Regions from separate parts of the Homo sapiens genome. Here region 1 is linked to region 2. Evidence: fine-mapped expression QTL. A gene starts in region 2. The other region holds a variant in brackets. All regions are shown on one strand. Distances are between the middles of the regions.

Region 1 (2,912 bases), 61 kb before region 2:
TTTTTTAGTTGTTGTCTTTTTAATAAGATTAACCCTTTATACGCTAAGGTACTATTGTGGAAGTAAATGAGATGACTCATGAGAACAACTGGGCTGATGGCCAGCAGTTTGGAGCATTGCTTCCGCTTTGAGTGACCAAAGTGGGAAGAGAACCCAGGTTGCTGAGTCTCTTGAGCTCCTCCAAGTGGTGAAACAGCTGCAAGTCTGTGCTGGAAAAGCATGAAATGGGTCCCATCTTCTCTAAGTCCAAGCAGAAAACGTCCTAGCTTGAGAAGCCACCCCTTGATGTATGGGGGACAGAATAGCAGGGCCCGACGAAGTGTGCTTTAGGAGTGTGGGGGAGGGATTCTAAACAAGCGTTCTGAAATTCTGCCATAGGAAAAATTAGTCCTTTTCTCCTGAGCTTTGAATTTGCATCTTCCGAAATATATGCAGTAACCCAAGTGGTTCCCACCACCCTGGAGACAGTTAACTCATTACAGTCCCTCCAGGACTGGAGGGGCCGGATGGCAGGCAGGCATGAGGCAGCCAGAGGAGGGGCCCCTAGAGGCTGCCTTGTCCCTACGGGCTCTGGTGGGGTTGGCTAAAGCACAAGACCAATGCGGCCGGCTGCAGGATTGGGTGTAGGTCCTCCCAGCTCTCCAAATCTTGGAAGTGTAGTTCTTATTCCTGGTTCTTCTGCTGGGCAAGGCATTCTGCCTCCCTGAACTCAGCTTCCTTCCATGTTGAAGGAGGGTGTTGGGCTGGACAGCGCAGAGGCCCCTTCAGGATCCTTTCATCCGTGGCATCACTAACTAGAGCAGCACTCACCGAGGCCAGAGAAAGGGCTGTCTGCTTTTACAGCTGGGTGTTGGCCTGCCTGTTAAGTTGGGCTTCAAGGAAGAGAAAACTGAGTGAATGGTGGCTTTAGCAATAAAGATGCCTGGTCAACAAAGGGAAGCAAAGGCTCTCGATTCAGGGCTGCCGGCTCCGCAGTGCAGCTGCCGCTGGTTTTCAGCCTTGTGTGGCTTCCTAGGTGCCAAATGGCTGGGCCCCCTCCTACACTATTGTGCTTCATACAGGAGCAAAAATCCTTCCGAAGAGCACCCCGGCTGGCTCCCCTTACATCACAATGGCCAGAACTGGGGCCTGCCCACCTGCCTGGATGTCCGGGTGTGTCCGGACCAAAGCTGAGCTCTGTTGGCAGCAGGAAGAGAGACTCCTGTTGAGCAGGCAGCCTGTTGGCCAAGCCAGCCATATCCACGGCTTCTCTGAGGTTCTCAGGTCAGAATCACGACATTAATAGTGTTATTGCCATGGAAAAGAAAATGAGCTTCAGGATAATCTGCTTTACAATGCCACTTCTGGAAAATTCCACTGGCAAAATGTAGGGCTTGCCTCTATTTTACTCCCTCTCCTAGCAAGGGGCACCTTGTTAGGAATCCTGTTTTGACAGAGCCCAGGGTAGGTTTTGTCATGACTCAGAGGGAAGATGGGGCCACCAACTCCCCTCCCTTTATGAGGAGCCTCTGCCTACTTCAAAGCTGGTGTCCTGAGCTCTGCCACAGGTGAGTGAGACAGAGAAATCCAC[A/G]GAGGTGTCTCCATAGAAACCCCAGGGATTCTGCACTGTGGTCACCCCCACAGAAAAGCATCCACCCTGGCTCCTCGGCCAGGAGCTGGCCTCTGACAGAAGCTGCTTCCTGTTTTCACTGCGTTTCCTCGAAGACTTCAGCTGCTCATCCTGATTTCCTGGTGAAAACAATTTCCCCATCACTAGCCCAGTGTTGACTCCAGAACCCAGGCATGTGGGATGAGACGTCCAGGGGAGGAAGAGGAGGGGTGGAACGCTGCATGACAGTCTACTGGAGAGGAAAGATACGAATGAATGGCAGAGGTGGAGATGGTGTTTTTAAAAAGATAGAATTAAGGCAGAGGGCTCTGCCACAGCCTGCCTGCCGTGTGGACCAAGCATGGGATTTGGAGACCAATAACCCTGGCTCTGACATGTATTAGCTGTGTGATTTTGGGAGCCTCAGTTTCCTTATCTGTGAAATGGAGGTAGCAATGCCTTCTACACAGGGCTACTGTGAGCAATGCGGATACTGTCATTGAAACATTGGGCATGCGATTATTAAAATAACGGAAACATTTTCTGTCTTGAGATACAGTTTAATGTCACTGAAAGAGCATACGCCTTAGGGCCAGTGAGACCTCAGCTACATCCTGTCCTGCTGCTTCCCCTCTCTGGGACCATTGGCAGGTCGCCAGCAAACCTCTCTGAGAGTCTGTAGAATGGGCTAATGCCATCTGCCTTGTAAAGATTAGAGAAGCTATTCTGTTTTAAATATTTATTTTTGTGGGTATATAGTAGGTGTATATATTTATGAGCTGCATGAGATGTTTTGATACAGGTATGCAATGTGTAATAATCACATCAGAGTGAATGGGGTATCCATCCACTTATGTACTTAACCTTTGTCTTACAAACAATCAAATTTATACTCTTTTAATTATTTTAGAATGTACAACTAAATTATCATTGACTATAGTTACCCTGTCATGCTATCAAATACTAGGTCTTATTCATTTTTCTAACTATATTTTTGTATCCATTAACCATTCACACCTCCTCGCTACCTCCCACTACCCTTCCCAGCCTCTGATAACCGTCCTTCTACTCTCTATCTCTATGAGTTCGATTGTTTTAATTTTTAGCTCTTACATAATAAGTGAGAACATGCGACGTTAGCCTTTCTGTGCCTGGCTTATTTCACTTAACATAATGGCCTCCATTCCATCCATGTGGTGCAAATGACTCGATCTCTTCTTTTTTCTGGCTGAGTAGCACTCCATTGTGTATATGTACTACCTTTATCCATTCATCTGTTGATGGACGTTTAGGTTGCTTCCAAATCTTGGCTATTGTGAACAGT
Region 2 (2,912 bases):
CCTCCTGAGTAGCAGGGACTATAGATGGAAGCCTGGCTCATTTTTTTGTGTGTGTAGAGATGGGATCTCTCTATGTTGCCCAGGCAGGTCTTGAACTCCTGGCCTCAAGCAATCCTCCTGTCTCTGCCTCTCAAAGTGCTGGGATTATAGGCATGAGCCACTGCACCCAGCTAACATTGTATTTTAAAAGGCCTTACCTTTGGGGAAAGTTCCCTTCTCCCAGTCTGTGCTTCCAGAAGTAATAGTATAGCAGCCCCACAGTTATCCAAGATGTTACCATTAGGGAAAACTGGGTGAAGGACACACAGAATTTCACCATAGTATTTATTATTATAACTCCATGTGAATTTACACTTATCCATGTGAATTTACACTTATCAAATAAAGTTAAACAAACAGACTTACAATTTCTTTTAAAAAATTAAAACTTAAAAATGTATACTTAAAATTTGCTAAGAGGGCAGATCTTAGGTGAAGTATTCTTACCACCAAAACAAAATGATAATACTAGAAAAATGGCAGGAGAGAGCTTTGGCAGGGGGAGTGGGATATGTTTTTGGCCTTGGTGGTGATGGGTTTCTGGTATATTGAGATGTAAATTTGTACAGCTTTTGACATGTCAGTCATTCCTCGATGAAGTGGGGTTTTTTAAAGCTAAACAAATATTATAGCAGCAGCATCAACTATCACTTATTCATCTACTCAACAAGCATCCAAGTGTCCTCAACAAGGACACTTACTGCATGCCAGCCACTGTTGTCAGTACTGGGAGATAGCAGAGAATGAAACAAGCAAAACCTTTCTCTTGTGGAGCAGGATTCTAACGTTAGTTGGCTAGACCAAGGCTTCATTCCGACAGGTTGCTGAAAACTCAAGTTATTACATAAACACTAACTACAAAGTGTACTTCCTCAGTTTCCTCAGAAGATAGCTGATTAGGTTTTTCTGGGCTGCTTGACAAGACTCAGACAGTATTTGTGAATATCAAGCTTTGTCCCACGTGGTAAATAAACTTGTTTAGAAACACCTGTAAAGCTTAAACGCGTGCTTTCTTCAACGCGTTTGGAAACTCTAACCCCCTTCTCTTTTGTACTTTTGCTTGCTGTCCACTACAGAGGGTCCAAGCACGAAGCTGTGCACAGAGTCGCTCTCCACAGAGATGCTTAGGATGTGATCCATGAATCGCAAATCCCAGCTAGTGCTCACAAAGACGGACATTTCTCCCCAAGACCATTCCAGTGCCCCAGAGGTCCACAGACATCCAGGAAGATGCAGCCAGCAGACAAAGAATGGCAGCCACCCAAGTGCTGAGGGGAGCCCTCCCGGCCATTTCTGTCCCAGCTCCAAGGGTCTCTCCACGATGGCCTGCAACAGCACGTCCCTTGAGGCTTACACATACCTGCTGCTGAACACCAGCAACGCCTCAGACTCGGGGTCCACCCAGTTGCCCGCACCCCTCAGGATCTCCTTGGCCATAGTGATGCTGCTGATGACCGTGGTGGGGTTCCTGGGCAACACTGTGGTCTGCATCATCGTGTACCAGAGGCCGGCTATGCGCTCGGCCATCAACCTGCTGCTGGCCACCCTGGCCTTCTCCGACATCATGCTGTCCCTCTGCTGCATGCCCTTCACCGCCGTCACCCTCATCACCGTGCGCTGGCACTTTGGGGACCACTTCTGCCGCCTCTCAGCCACGCTCTACTGGTTTTTTGTCCTGGAGGGCGTGGCCATCCTGCTCATCATCAGCGTGGACCGCTTCCTCATCATCGTCCAGCGCCAGGACAAGCTGAACCCGCGCAGGGCCAAGGTGATCATCGCGGTCTCCTGGGTGCTGTCCTTCTGCATCGCGGGGCCCTCGCTCACGGGCTGGACGCTGGTGGAGGTGCCGGCGCGGGCCCCACAGTGCGTGCTGGGCTACACGGAGCTCCCCGCTGACCGCGCCTACGTGGTCACCTTGGTGGTGGCCGTGTTCTTCGCGCCCTTTGGCGTCATGCTGTGCGCCTACATGTGCATCCTCAACACGGTCCGCAAGAACGCCGTGCGCGTGCACAACCAGTCGGACAGCCTGGACCTGCGGCAGCTCACCAGGGCGGGCCTGCGGCGCCTGCAGCGGCAGCAACAGGTCAGCGTGGACTTGAGCTTCAAGACCAAGGCCTTCACCACCATCCTGATCCTCTTCGTGGGCTTCTCCCTCTGCTGGCTGCCCCACTCCGTCTACAGCCTCCTGTCTGTGTTTAGCCAGCGCTTTTACTGCGGTTCCTCCTTCTACGCCACCAGCACCTGCGTCCTGTGGCTCAGTTACCTCAAGTCCGTCTTCAACCCCATCGTCTACTGCTGGAGAATCAAAAAATTCCGCGAGGCCTGCATAGAGTTGCTGCCCCAGACCTTCCAAATCCTCCCCAAAGTGCCTGAGCGGATCCGAAGGAGAATCCAGCCAAGCACAGTCTACGTGTGCAATGAAAACCAGTCTGCGGTTTAGGGGGTCAGGGGGCCACAGAGAAGGGGCAGCTGAGCCCCAGTCCCAGGGTGGATCTGTCCTGCTCTGTTCCCTGGCATGTTGGTCATAGTCTGCACTTTGTGGTGGCAATTTAAGCACAAAGGTACTCATTTGTAATCAGATGAGCTGCAGCTCCCAAATTTCAAATTTTGGCACGATGAATTATTTTTGTTTCTCTTTGCAGAGAGCCAAATATGGGGCTGATGGGAACTGCAACGTCATTAAGTCAAAAATGGAGTGGGCTGGGGAGTGCAGAAGTTGGGCAGAAAGGGAGGAGGAGGGCAACAGGGAATGAAGCTGGTTGAGTGTGGGGCAGGAGGACTGGTCAGTCACAAGAGCTTCAACCTGCCCTGCGAGCCCTCTCTGCACCTGCTCAAGAGAAACCCTGAGAAACCCCAGTAGGTGTGAGCTCCTG

Direction of the effects. Alleles are on the strand shown, and positions count from the first base shown. SD is a standard deviation of normalised expression in the study named.
With allele G in place of A in region 1, the expression in testis of the gene that starts at base 1,245 in region 2 is lower (moderate effect, 0.50 SD a copy in GTEx).

The links. PIP is the estimated chance that this variant, and not a neighbour inherited with it, causes the effect. A credible set is the group of variants that fine-mapping cannot tell apart.
Region 1: its variant is the best candidate, but not a certain one, in a credible set for the expression of GPR45 in testis (GTEx, PIP 0.67).

What each region holds. Positions count from the first base shown.
Region 1 is chr2:105,179,763-105,182,674 of GRCh38, forward strand. No RefSeq gene overlaps it. Among named protein-coding and RNA genes, the nearest start is that of LINC01918, 37 kb to the left of the region's middle. The variant A/G (reference allele first, on the strand shown) is at 1,571.
Region 2 is chr2:105,240,499-105,243,410 of GRCh38, forward strand. GPR45 (G protein-coupled receptor 45) reads left to right here and starts at 1,245. Exons shown (of 1, transcript NM_007227.3): 1 at 1,245-2,912. The coding sequence starts at 1,361. The coding sequence ends at 2,479.